Homo sapiens: one gene and its partner. The protein of the gene in region 1 interacts with the protein of each later gene in a pairwise test. Each region holds a gene or a part of one and is shown on either strand. Other genes may lie near its edges.

Region 1 (7,023 bases):
TAACAACAAATGAAGAAGCAGTTCAGGATGAAATACTGATAATATATAAAGTGAATGAAGCTGATTATAAAACATGTATGAGAGCTGGATGTGGTGGTGCATGCCTATAATCCCAGCACATTGGGAGGCTGAGGTGAGAGGATAGCTTTGAGGCCAGGAGTTCAAGACCAGTTTGGGCAATATGGCCTGACCTGTAATTTTTTCCCCCCCGTGGGTACAAAGGGAAGGGAAACAGGATCTTCATCTTTTTTTTTTTTTTTTAATGTATGAATATAATTTTGAGTGAAATATATGCCAAAATTTTATGAAGTTTTTTTTTCTTTCAGTGCTTAGATAGATAAATGGTTTGCTTGCTATATAAGAACATAGGTTTGACATTTATGGATTTAACATTCCTGCTTTGACTATTCCTAAGTAACCTGGAAGGCTCAAGATAGGCAGAGGTATGTGATTTTGCTGATTTAATGTGCAGAAATGAGTCCATTACTTAGAAAATGTGCCTTGCCAGCTGCCCGGTTTATCTATCTCAGTACAGCTTTTTCTCTTTCTCTTTTTCTTTCTTTTTTTTTTTTTTTCTGTTTTGTTTTGAGACAAGTTCTCGCTAGACCTGGGTATGCACCCAGGCTAGAGTGCAGTGGTGTGATCATGACTCACTGCAGCCTCAACCTTCCATGCTTAAGCAGTCATTTTGCCTCAGCCTTTTGAGTAGCTGGAACCACAGACATGTACCATCATGCCCGGCTAATTTTTAAACTTTTTTACAAAGGTTGGGTTTTGTCCATATTGCCCAGGCTGGTCTCGAACTACTAGCTTCAAGCAATCCGCCCACAGCTCCCAAAGTGTTGGGATTACAGGAGTGAGCCACCGTGCCCAGTCTGTTTTTCTTGATTAATTCTTCTGCAGTACTTGCCATGAAGTAATAAACACTCCTTCCCTATTAAATATAGCACTTTGAAAGAAAGCAGACTAAATCAAGACTGTTGTTCAAAGTGAATAGATGGAAGAATTGATAGTTCTGTCAGGAAACAGGTTTTTGATATATTAAAGAATAGGATGTTTGACATGAACAGAGTTTGTCATTTTAAACATGGGGGAGAGTTAGGCAATGATATACATAGATGTGAGGATTGACAAAAATGATGTTTCTCTTCTTTAAAAATAACAGGATGGGCCAGGCATGGTGGGTCATGCCTGTAATCCTATGACTTTGGGAGGTCGAGGCAGGATTGTTTGAGCCCAGGAGTTCAAGACCAGCCTAGGCAATATAGCAAGACCCCATCTCTATTATTTAAAATAATAAAAATATTAAAAATTTATTATAAAAAAACAAATATCAGGATCATCTGTATTCAAGAAAAATGTACTGATAAGTAGGCTGCTGTTAATTTCTAGTAAAGAATCTAACTTCAAATCATACATAATTTTAGATAAATAGAAAAAATTCTGTATATTTTAACAGTATTAGGATGATTCTCTAAATATAGGCAAAGAACTGAAGAGTTCCATAGAAGGTGACTAACTATAAATGTATTATACATGACTGGAAAAGTAATGGCAAGCAAGACTTCAGAGCTGAGCTATCTTGATATTTTTATCCAGTGTGTGGGGTGTTACACATGCATCACAGCTATAATAGAGCTATCACATGGATCTTTTGAAAAACAAGATAGAGATGTTTTAAAGGCTTCTGGGTTTGATTTCTTAGTCAGATGCTGTGGTACTTGGCATTTAACAACTAGAATTCAGAATCCAGATTTTTAAAGGTGAATTATTTTAAATAACTGAGTTGTAATAGAGAAGTAATTTATTTGAAATTATTTTAGGAAATGGAAGATAAAGTGACTAGTCCAGAGAAAGCAGAAGAAGCAAAATTAAAAGCAAGATATCCTCATCTGGGACAAAAGCCTGGAGGTTCAGATTTCTTAAGGAAACGGTTGCAGAAAGGGGTAAGTTCTCATGGGTAATTTCCAAATACTTAAGCCCTACAAACTCAGTATGCTGACAGATTGTGAAACGGATATCTGTGCGTATAGCATTGTACTTTATCAGGTATGTACATATGTGTATATGTATCTGTAATGGGTTTTTCCAATATTTTGCAGTTTATAAATAAGCATTGTGAGAATCTACAACTCTTCAGCATTTTTAATAATAAACTATTTAAAGCATGTAGAAATAGTGCAGATATAACAGAACCCATATACCCCTTCCCAGATTTAATGTTTATATTTTGCCATGTTGGTTTCAGTTTTATCTTTCTTAAGAAAGAAAATGTTGTAGATACTGTTGAAACCCACCCTATATGTAAATATGAGCCCTTTCCCTTATCTCTCCAAAAGCAGCCACTATCCAGAAGCTGGTGTTTATCCTTCTGCCCATATTTTGAAACTTCCATATTTTTTGCAGGTGATTCCCACACAACATTCAAAAGCTTAAAATACTTATTTGGATGAAATGATCACTTAATAAATGCACAGCTATCTCCTTTATGTAATATGTTTCACAGTCAGATTTACTCTAATACAATTTAAACATTTTCATTTTCATAGTTCAAATTACTGAAGATATTATTTTCAAATTCTTGCCATGTTTTGCGAGGTAGATACCATTATTTCTCAATAATGAGATTGAGATAATGCTGGCCTGTTTGTTCCCTAAGTATTGTCCTGTGACCCCTTCCTTTGCTGTAAAAAATTAGAGAGTTCCATCTTCAGCTTAAGCATATTCAAATTACTTACTATACAGGGAAGGATGAAATACTACTTACGGAAGAGAATTGTTGAATGAGATGCTAAATCATGTTTCTCCTTAAATACATTCATATACTGATATCGGCTCCTTGCTTAAAACACGTCTGTGTGTGTATTAGCTCTAGGTACATATGGATTGTTTTAAAGTGGCAAAAAATAGAATGGTATTTTTAATCTTACATGAAAGAATAATATTCACAGCTTTGAAATACTAGGATGATGGAATAATGACACCAAATTTATGAAGATGTAAAACTCCCGTACCATGAAATATATAATCAAGTAGGGAAGTTATTACAAAAATGTTAGTTAATGTCTAAAATACATACAGAAACTTTTAAATATATGAAAGGGAACTTTTAAGTGTACAAGAAAAACACTTAAGGTGCTCCTGGATAAAGGATTTTAACAGGAAATATAAAAAACAGAGAAATGTTTATATATTATAGACATCAGTGAAATGCAAATTACATCATAGTATTTATATAACTAAATTGCAAAAATGTTTAAAATAATACCTATTGCTAAGGTTGAAGTTGAATGAAACTAATATGCTCTTTGTTGTGTTTAAACATTAAAAATTATTACTCGTTTCAGAACAGGGTATGGATTAAGGTTTATAAAAATGTTCTTCAAATCAATAATCTCTTATTTATTAATCTAAGAGTATAATTCAGTACAAGGAAAGTCTTCCAAGTTGGAAGGTCCTCCTTATAGCTTATAACTATAATTAGTAGCAGCACCACTATTCAACAGCAGAGAAATGATTAAATAAATTGAAGTAAGTCAATAAAATAGTATTATGTGGTTATTTTAGAACATAAAGATCATAATATAGGGGATAAATAGAAGAAGTAGAATGACAACTGTGTTTTTAGTTATGAGATAAATTATTTAATCTTTGGCTATTAAATTATTTTGATTTGATTATTGTTTAGGAAATATTTTCTTTGCTAATCTCCAGCATAACCTTGGCTAATAGGCTTTCTTCCAACATTGGGCCAATTGTCACTGTAATTTTTCTCTAGCTTGAACTATTTATTTTTAAGTATCTTCAAGTCAGATTTCATATACATTGTATCTTGGAGTTGGTGTTGTAGATATAAATAGTTGAGAATGAAGAAAATGCTACTGAATCAAGAAATAAGTAGATAGAATTTGAGAAGTGAGCTCTTTAATGATTCTGTATTATAACAGAATGTCAGTGAATAAGTTATTTTATATGAAGTTTTGATTTTTTTTAAAACTCTGGATCACAGGTTCTGGGTTTTAATTTTCCTCTATCACTAGTTAGCAAACTTGACAAATTACCTTAGCATCTTTAAGTAGCTTCTTAATTTGAGAAGGTTTGATTAGATATTATGATTATTATAATAGGTCTCTTCTTGTGTTGTACTCATTAATGTTATTATGAGGTTAATGTTATTATTAGGCTTTTAACAATATGACTGTGTACACATGACTACATAGATTATCAGAGCTGGGAGGGATATCAAGAAGCTGTGTGGCCTGTTTTTACATTTTTTATTTCTTTTTGCTTTTTGTTTTGTTTTTTCATATTTGTAGGGGTTGTGAAGTCCCTAGAAAACAGAGAATCCAGTTGTAAGAAACATGGCTTTAAAGTTGAACATTACCACTTTAGGTGATCACTTAGTGTCAGTGTAGTTGTAAATGCTGATGTAAGTATGGCCCATAAATTTGTGTGAGAGGAGGCTTTTATAAGATTGTCATCTAGATCATAATTAATTTTTAAATATTTTCATTACAAACTCATGAAATTTAGAGATTGTTAAAGACATATCATCATCGTTGTTATCTGTGGATCCCAATTTGATAAACATTAGTTCACTTCTCTATCTTAAAGCATTAGCTTCTTTCTCTGACATCTTTGTTGTTTTATTGTCTTTGCTGAATCTCTGCCTTTTGCAGTAACCTTTTCCTTTTTAGGGCAATTCTAATTGTCAGGCATTGATTTTAGTTTTATCTCTAGTCACACTAAATTTAATTCCTTTCCCCCAAGCAGAGTAGCCTAATCTACAGTTAATTGAGACCCCCTTGTGATGAACTTTTGCTTACTATAAAATTACTTACATTAGAAACTGCGTTTATTACATAGGGGGAAAATCTGCCTAAAATTTACATGTGTGTTAAATTTCTCAGTATGTGCTTCTGACAAAATAAGAAATTTGGCAGGCTGCTTTGTTCTCCTCTAGAGGCTACAAAATTCAGAAATAGCTTTTTAATATATTACAGTGCATCACAATTCTGAGGTTTTTCTGTCTGCTCATTTTAAAACATACAGAAGTGAAGCTGCAGAAAGCTTTAGATGGGCCTGTTCCAGGGTTCCTTGTTACTGTTCCGTATGGTACATATACAGTAATACATTAAAGCAGTTTCTGTCTTTAGGCCTTTGGGCCATAGACCAGGTCTGGCTTATCAAAAAGTGGTGGAGGAAAGCAGCCAATGAGACTTTTTCCTCAGGCCACTCAATAGTCTTATACTAAGCTGTGAGTTCCTAGCTATTTTGTTTTATCACATGAAGTATCCCTGAAGATATTAGCTTAAGATTCCATAAATATTATCTGTTTTCTTCCCCTTCACCCTTTGTCCAAGCCCTTGTTTCATACCTGGATTATTTCCTTTGCCAACCCAAGACTGAGATTAGAGCCCCCTTCTTTGAGCACCATATAGCACTGTGTGTGCTTAAGGCAGTATTGTAATTGTTGATTTACTTGACTATTGTCCCATCTTTGTATCTGACTCCAGCTCTCACATAGTGCCTCACATATAGCAGGCACTCAGTAAAGATGGGCTCAGCATGATAGGTGTAAGTTAGAACCCAGGCAAATTTATGTTTTTGCTCTGGAAGTCAAGTAGGTTAGTTGTATTAAGGTTGATGTTTAGCTCTCATCACAATTTGCATGTTAGTGGTAAAGGGCAGCTAAAAAAAAAGCAGTAGTCATACTTCATGTCTCTCTGTGAAAAATGGAGGAGGTGTGGAGTAGGGATATGCATTTTAAGTAATAATTTCTAGTGAGTTTATTTCTTTCATTACTCTAATATTTATATTTTTACCTTAATTTTTGGTAAACTGCTCTAGTTCAAATAAGTATGATTTAAATTCTTGCAGAAACACTTGTTCTAAATAACAGAATACCAGGAACTGTAAATAATAGTTTTAATAACTATAATTATGGGGGGGTTGGTTTTTTTGTTTTTGAGACAGAGTCTTGCTCTGTCGCCCAGGCTGGAGTGCAGTGGCACAATCTCAGCTCTCTGCAACCTCCACACCCCGGGTTCAAGCGATTCTCTTGTCTCAGCCTCCAGGGTAGCTGGGATTCCAGACACCTGCCACCACAACCGACTAATTTTTGTATTTTTAGTAGAGACGGGGTTTCACCATATTGGCCGTTCTGGTTTCAAACTCCTGACCTCTGACCTCAAGTGATCCACCCAACTCGGCCTCCCAAAGTGCTGGGATTACAGGCATGAGCCACCATGCCCAGCCAAATTATGTGTTTTATTTATAAAATAATTTAAGCAAGTGTTTCACCTGGTTGTTCCATTAGTAAATGAAAGATTTTATTTCACTGAGTCTGGGACTTCCCAAATAGCTTAATATTATATTAGTCTTGATGGTTCTTTATTAGAACCAGAATGGTTCAAGAAAGCCTGAAGGCAGGTTCTTTTTTTTTTTTTTTTTTTTTTTTTTGTGAGACAGTCTCTGTTGCCCAGGCTGGAGTGCAGTGGGGCAATCTTGGCTCACTGCAGCCTCCACCTCCCAGGTTCACATGACTCTTAAGCCTCAACCTCTGGAGTAGCTGGAGTTACAGATGTGCACCACCACACCCAGCTAATGTTTGTTTTTTGTTTTTTTTGTTTTTTTTTAGTAGAGACAGGGTTTCGCCATATTGGCCAGGCTGGCCTGGAACTCCTGACCTTAAGTGTTTCGCCTGCCTTGGCCTCCCAAAGTGTTGGGATTTCAAGAGTGAGCCACTGTGCCCAGTCTGAAGGGGGGCTTCTCGGCTGTTGACTTATGCTGGAACTCAGTACAGAGACTATTTCATCTAATTAATATTCCTGTTTAAATTCTTTTAGACCAACCTTATACGGACAGTATGGGGTTGCATCGACATCTTAAATCAGTAATTGCTAAGCTCTAATCTGAATTTTTTTTGTTTTTACTTATAGCAAAAATATTTTGATTCTGGGGATTACAACATGGCTAAAGCAAAAATGAAGAACAAGCAACTTCCTACTGCAGCTCCGGATA
Region 2 (7,326 bases), on another chromosome or scaffold:
TGGGCCAGCAGGCGTGCTGTTCTTCACCCTGCAGAGCTTCAGTGCCCAGGGCGTGCCGGAGGCTTTGGGAAGACTGGGGAGAGGAAAGAGTGAGGCTCAGAGAAGAAACCTGCCAAGCTCACACGGGAGGGGCAGCACGTCGACCCCAGGCCCATGGCCCTCTCTCTCATATTGTTGGTCCTCACTCCTGCCTCCCAAGCTCCCACACCAGCCCCCAGCTCCTGTCCCATCCTGCACTCACTGCGGAGGGAGTAGGTGCCTGGTTCCAGTTGCATCTGGGGAGGCAAGACGATGAGAAAGTCCCCACCCCAGGCGTTTTTGACCCTTGAGAGATAATTTTGGGAGGGAGGGCGATGACATTCAGAGGTCAGAGAAGGGCACTTGGATGACACAGGCTTAAGCAAGTGGCTGCTGCAGTGCTGGGGCAAACCACAGGGGGAACAGTGGGGCGGCGAGAGGCCAGGGCCCCGGGGAAGGCGAACAGGGACCTGTGGACAGACCCTCTGAACCCCACCATGGTGGGGGCGCCGGTCCCGAGTCCAAGCCCAGTGGAATGGCTCCTTTGCCATGACCTGGGAGGAGCAGAGTGGACAGTAAATGGGGTGGGAACCCCAGCCTTCCCCACACCCCAGGTTGCCTCCCAGCCTCACCTCCTCACAGCACTGGCGGCTCACAACAGCCCGGAAACCCATCCGTGCCCAAAGCTTATCCCTCTGGTGCAGGAATTTCCCCACTCGTAAACACCAATCTTTTCCCAGGGCCCATGGAAAAATCTCACATTTGGGGCCCTCCAGGTCCTCCTCCATGTCGTTTGCAAGGTACCTAGCCACAGAGGCACAAGGTCAGGGAGCAGAGGCCACACATCTGCCCTGTCCCATCTGACACCTCCAGCAAATGCCTCCACTGCCTGCCCCCACCACTCACAGGGCCAAGAACAGGCTGCTGTGGGTATACTCGCTGAGCTTCAGGTGGGCGCGCTGGAAGTAGACCAGCACCATGGCCAGGAGATACTGCAGAGACAGATCGGGGTGGGGGGTTAGTTATTCTCTGAGGAGGAGGGGCTTGCACCCAGGTTCATTTGCACCCAGGGAGGTTTTGCTGCAGGGAAAGAAAGTCAGTAAAATGGTGGGAAGTGGTGTGCAAAGATGAGGGGGTAAGGATGGAAGGTGAGTGGCTCTCCCTACCAGACCAGGGCACTCAATTCCCACCAACTCAACCTGACCCTCAAGAGACCCCCAGCCTGTACTCCCTCACCTTATCTGAAATCTGGAAGCAGGGGTCTTTGGAGAGGAATTCCTGGACAAAACTGTCCTCTGAGGGTAGAGAAGACATGACAGGACGCAGGTTACCACCACCTCCATGGAGAAGAGTGGCATCAGAAGCTCCAAAGCCCAAGCCACCACTGAACCCTCTCTCTCTTTCTCTTTTTCTCCCTTTTTCTCTTTCTCTCTCTCTTTCTTAATATAAATAGAAATGGAGTCTCACTATGTTGACCAGGCTGGTCTTGAACTCCTGGCCTGAAGTGATACTCCCATTTCAGCCTCCCAAAATGTTGGGATTATAGGTATGACTCACGGTGCCTGGCCCTGAATCCAGTTTCTGAGAGGACACCCCTCCCACCTGCCTAAGCTGGGATACCTGAGAGGGAGAGGGTCAGAGGTCTCAGATGTCTGTACAGGCAGGTGAGACCCCACACTTCACATCTGCTTTCACACTTGACCTCACGGCCCCTCCCGTGCCAGCCCTCCAAACTCACCCAGAAGGCTGAGGAAGGCCTGGACCTCCTGGTGCTGGCGAAAACGGAGGAACCCATTGCCCCCACCTTGCCGGCTGCAGCCCCCCAGCTCTACCTGGGTGGTAACTACAGGGGAAGTGGTGGGGTCTTGGGAGTCACTCATCTCATAGGAGATGGAGATGGGGCAGGGTGACCTGTAGAGAAAGGAGGCTCAGGACTTAGCATGTACCCCCGTGATGCTCACAAATCAAGAGGGTGGTGACAGGGGCCAGGACGGTGGAGGGGTGGGTGCAGAGACTTGGGGGCTCAGAACAGAAGGCAGCCGGGATGCAACAAGAGTGGGGAGGCCAGAAAAGAAGCAAAGAGTTGCTATAGGTGAGGGTGTGGCACCCTCACCCTCCTCCTGGCACCCCAGGACAGGCCAGAGTAACAGCAGCAACAAGCACCGCTGAGGGCTTCCTAAGTGCCTGGGGCTGTGCTTAAGGGCCTTATCTTATTCCATCCTGGTAAGGAGGTAAGTTTAACTCAGACCGGTCGTCAAACGAGGAAACTGAAGCTGAGGCCTAACAGCCGGTTAAAAGTGAAGCCCTTGGTCTCCAAAACCCCAAGAGGTTTTTTGGTTTTTGTTTGTTTGTTTTGAGACACAGTCTCTCTCTGTCGCCCAGACTGGAGTGCAGTGGCGCGATCTCGGCTCACTGCAACCTCCGCCTCCCGGGTTCAACTGATTCTCCAGCCTGAGCCTCCCGAGTAGCTGGGATTACAGGCATGCGCCATGCCACCACGCCCGGCTAATTTTTTTTGTATTTTTTTGGTAGAGACAGGGTTTCACCGTGTTGGCCAGGCTGGTCTCACACTCCTGACCTCCCAAAGTGCTGGGATTGCAGGCGTGAGCCACTGCGCCTGGCCAAAAAAAAAGAAAAAAAAAACCCAAGAGTTTAACTGCTCCTCTAGGCCCCAACTCACAACCACCCCCGACCCCTCACCAAAGCAGAGTTGAAAGGGCCACTGATCCCTTACACCGAGGGGAAACTGAGGCCCTCAGGGAGGAATGAAATTAGAAAAATACCTGGATTTAGAGCAAGTTGATGGGGCCACTTCAAACATTTCAAGCTCCCGTCCTAAACCCACCCTCATCCCTGAGAGAGAGAAGCCAACCACGGGGCCGAGGAGAACGTGCGGTCGACCACCCCAGGGCCAATCTGGGCCCCTCCATCTAGGCGCCCGCAAGCAACCCAGCCTCCTCCTGCAGCGAGCCTTACCCGAGCTCAGGAATGGCCCAGAGCATAACACCAACGCCGCCGCGAGTGCGCTTATATAGCCTGAGGGCGGCCCTGCCCAAAGCAGCCCGTCCACCAATCAGGGCCTTCCTGGGGGGCGAGGCTTGGCCTTCACCGCCTGCCTCTCTGCCAGTGAGTCCAGTCGGCACCCAGCTGTGGCTCCCCAGGGTTTGAAAGCCTCTCCAAAGCTTCATCAACTACAAGAGGGGTGAAGGCAGGCCAGCTGGACCCCAGGGCCTAAGGCCCCATAGGACAGGCAGGGAGCTAGGATCCCTGTTCCCCTCTTGACAAATGCAGCGCCAAGGTGCTGAGCCGGGATATGAGACCCGGACTGCGAGGGCCTGGTGGGCGAGTTTTTTTTCATTGATTGTGCCTTGCTAGGGCAGGGTCTCTGGCTCTCTATGGGTGTCTCTGAATCTCCTGGCCTCCTTGAGTCTCTAGGTTTCACTGAGGCCCCCCGAGTCTCTCTTTTGTTTCTTATTTTATTTTTCCCCTCGTAACACAGAACAAGCTGCCTGGGTCTCAGTGGGCCTCTGAGTCTCTCAGTTTCTTGTTGCCTCTGGTGTCTGGATGTCTGTGGATCTCTGGGTCCTTTGTTTTCTCTCTGATCTCTGGTCTCTGGTGTATCTGCTGTTTCATGGTCTCCCCCAGGCCGCCTCCCAGGCTCCCTGAGGCCGTGAAGGCCTTTCTAGACCAGCTGGTCTGCATCAGGCCATCCTGTTTGTGTGTGTGCACGCATTTGAAGTCGGCCTCCCCTAGAAAGGAAGTAGTGAGTGGGGCAGCATCCATAGCCCGTTCACTAAACACCTACTGCTGCCTACTGAGGAGTCTGTGATGGAATCAGCTCACGTGTTCCTCACAGCAAGCCCGTGAAGTTGATGAGAATGATGAGAAGCCTCATTTTGTCAGCGAACAAACAACTAACACACAGAGTTTGGGTTGCTGACCGACAGGCTGAGTAACTTCCTGCCAGCCACTCAGCTGGTAAGTAGAGATAGAGTTCCAGCCTGGCTGCTGGGCCCACACGCTGGGTAGCCTGGCTGTGTGGTCTACAGCTGTTCCTGGACGCTGCCTGCACAGAGAAGGTGTTCCATGAAACCGAATGAATCTCCTAGACCAGCTGTGTTTTCAACTGTTCTCCTCCTCCCCCAGTAATTAAGGTTAGAGATCAGGAAGGTGTACCAAAAAGAAGCCTGGGAGTGGGCTAGTCACTTTAACTTTGGGAGGGCCTTCAGGCTGATTTCCTTCAGTGCCACCCCTGGAGATCTGACACCGATCTCCCACACTGGGGAGAATATTTGTTTTTACTTTTTTTTTTTTTTTTTTTGAGACGGAGTCTCGCTGTGTTGCCCAGGCCGGAGTGCAGTGGCCCAATCCCGGCTCCCTGCAACTTCCACCTCCAGGGCTCAAGCAATTCTCCTGCCTCAGCCTCCCGAGTAGCTGGGACTACAGGCATGTGCCGCCATGCCTGGCAATTTTTTTGTTTTGTTTTGTTCTCCTGACCTCATGATCCACCCGCCTTGGCCTCCCAGAATGCTGGGATTACAGGCATGAGCCACCATGCCCAGCCTTTCTCTTTCACTTTTCAGAATCCCATGATTCACTGGGCTCTTCAATCTGCCCAGATAATCTCCCCATCTCAAGATCCTTAACTTGGCTGGGAGAGGTGGCTTACCCCTGTAATCCCAGCATTGTGGGAGGCAGAGGAGAGCAGATCACCTGAGGTCAGGAGTTCAAGACCAGCCTGGTAAACATGGCAAAACCCCTCCTCTACTAAAAATACAAAAATTAGCGGGGCATGGTGGTGCATGCCTGTAATCCTAACTACTCGGGAGGCTGAGGCAGGAGAATTGCTTGAGCCCTGGGGGTGGAGGTTGCAGTGAGCTGAGATCATGCCATTGCACTCCAGTCTGGGCAACAGAGCAAGACTTGGTCTCAAAAAAAGATCCTTAACCATCTGCAAAGTCTTTTTTGCCATGTGAGATAACATATTCTCAGGTCTGGGAAGTGAAATGTAGCCATCTTTGGGAGTCCATTATTCTGCCTGCTACAATTATCACAGCAAAATTTATTCTATGCTAACTAATATACTATTTATAAAATTTATATTCATGTAAATGTATATATAATTTGTAAAATCATATATTAATATTGCATGCTATAAAGGATACACGTAAAAGGATATAAAAGAATACACATAAAACATAATAACATACTACCAGCTCAAAAAATATATATATGGCCAGGTCCATTGGCTCACGCCTATAATCTCAGCACTTTTTGGAGGCCGAGACAGGAGGATCATTTGAGTTCAGGAGTTAGAGACTAACCTGGGCAATACATCAAGGCCCCATCTCTACCAAAAATAAACTAGCCTGGCATGGTGGCACGTGACTGCAGTCCTATCTACTCAAGAGGCTGAGGTGGGAGGATCACTTGAGCCCAGGAGTTCAAGGCTGCAGTGAGCTATTATCATGCCATTCTACCCAGCCTGGGTGACACAGCAAGACCCTGTCTCTAAAACATGAATAAATAAATAAATAAGAATATTAAAAATTTCAAAATATAAAGATAGAAAAAATAATATGCAATTACTAAAAGAAAGCTGGGATAACTACACTAATATATTAAAACAACTTTAGGCCGGGCGCGGTGGCTTATGCCTGTAATCCCAGCACGTTGGGAGGCCGAGGCAGGTAGATCATTTGAGGTCAGGAGTTCAAGACCAGCCTGGCCAACATGGTGAAATTCCATTTCTACTAAAAATACAAAAATTAGGTGGGTGGTAGTGGCGAATGCCTGTAATCCCAGCTACTTGGGAGGCTGTGGCAGGAGAATCGCTTGAGCCTAGAAGGCAGAGGTTTTGGTGAGCCAAGATTGTACCACTGCACTCCAGCCTGGGTGACAGAGTGAGAACTTGTCTCAAAAAAAAAAAAAAACAAAAAACAAACAAAAAAACACAACTTTGGACAAAAAGCATAACTAGGGAGAAAGAGAATTTATGTAGTGATTTTAAAAATATACAGCCGGATGTGGTGGTGTGCACCTGTAGTGCTGGTCTGGGCAACATAGGGAGATCCTGTCGGTAAGAAGAGGAGGGGAAGGAGGGGAGGGAAAATAAAGGAAAGGAAAGAGGCAGGAAGAGAAAAATAAAAGGAAAAAGGAAGGAGAAGAAAGAAAGAAGGGAGGGAGGGAAGGAAGGAAGAAAAAAAAGTGTATAATTACCTAACCAGAATCCAGGTAAAGAAAAAAATATATAGTAATTTGTTTACTCCTAAAAATAAAGTCAATAAGCAAGAAACCGCATGTGTGTGTGTCTGTGTGTGTGTGTGTGTAAAATCAACAGAACCACACGGAAAAACAAATCACAATCATAATTGTAGATATGATGGCACATGCAAGGCAAAAAAGTTAGCAAAGCAGTAAAAGATATGAAGAATATGATGAAGAAATTTGACCTAGTGGACGAATAAGCTGGCACTGCACCCAACAAAGGCAGGAAAGCACGCACAGAACATCTTCCTAAAAATTAATCAAATGTACCCGGGCGAGGTGGCTCACGCCGATAATCCCAGCACTTTGGGAGGCCGAAGCAGGCGGATCACAAGGTCAGGAGTTAGCGACCAGTCTGGCCAACATAGTGAAACCCCGTTTCTACTGAAAATACAAAAAGCCGGGCGTGGTGGCGGGCGCCTGTAGTCCCAACTACTCAGGTGGGTGAGGCAAGAGAATGGCGTGAACCCGGGAGGCGGAGGTTGCAGTGAGCGGAGGTCGCGCCACTGCTCCAGCCTGGGTAACAGAGCAAGACTCCGTCTCAAAAAAAAAAAAAAAAAAAAAAAAAAAAAAAAAAAAGAAAAAGAAAAAGAAAAAGAAAGAAAGAAAATATTGTCTGTCAAAGTTGGAGGACACAACTAGTAATTCTTAGAGAGGAATTTATGACCTCAAACGCGCGTGTTAGAAAATAAGAAAAGCTGTCACGCTGATGAACTGAACTCCATCTTAAAAAGTCACAAGCCAGCCAGGGGGACTTCCGGGTCCTGAGGCCCAAGGGGCTGCCTGGGTCCCCATCCGCCAACTTTTGCTGTCCACACAGCCCCAGACAACAAGAAAGGAAAAATAAAACGCTGCCAAAACCACAGCGTCGGCATAACTTGAAAGCAGAGAAGGTCCAAACTTCAAGATAAATGTAAATAAAAAGAAAGCGACCATATCCCCGCACGCCGTCGTGCGCTGCGGCCTCTCCCAGGCACGAGGCTTTGTGCCAAGAAAAGCTGGGGAAGGAGGGGAGAAAGGAGTATCGATCCGGGCTGGGGT

The links. Proteins that work in one complex are often made in the same cells at the same time.
Region 2: the proteins of ARPP19 (region 1) and SPDYC interact in binary tests that used the Homo sapiens proteins (3 or more experiments, as listed by UniProt).

The regions. Positions count from the first base shown.
Region 1 is NC_000015.10:52,552,023-52,559,045, reverse strand, and holds part of ARPP19 (cAMP-regulated phosphoprotein 19), read left to right. Parts: intron 1-1,823; coding exon 1,824-1,946; intron 1,947-6,941; coding exon 6,942-7,023. UniProt on the Homo sapiens protein: Protein phosphatase inhibitor that specifically inhibits protein phosphatase 2A (PP2A) during mitosis. Inhibition of PP2A is enhanced when ARPP19 is phosphorylated.
Region 2 is NC_000011.10:65,165,930-65,173,255, reverse strand, and holds the start of SPDYC (speedy protein C), read right to left. Parts: upstream 3,024-7,326; 5' UTR 2,995-3,023; intron 1,930-2,994; 5' UTR 1,899-1,929; coding exon 1,757-1,898; intron 1,314-1,756; coding exon 1,255-1,313; intron 1,011-1,254; coding exon 925-1,010; intron 823-924; coding exon 651-822; intron 573-650; coding exon 242-572; intron 74-241; coding exon 39-73; 3' UTR 1-38. UniProt on the Homo sapiens protein: Promotes progression through the cell cycle via binding and activation of CDK1 and CDK2. Involved in the spindle-assembly checkpoint. Required for recruitment of MAD2L1, BUBR1 and BUB1 to kinetochores.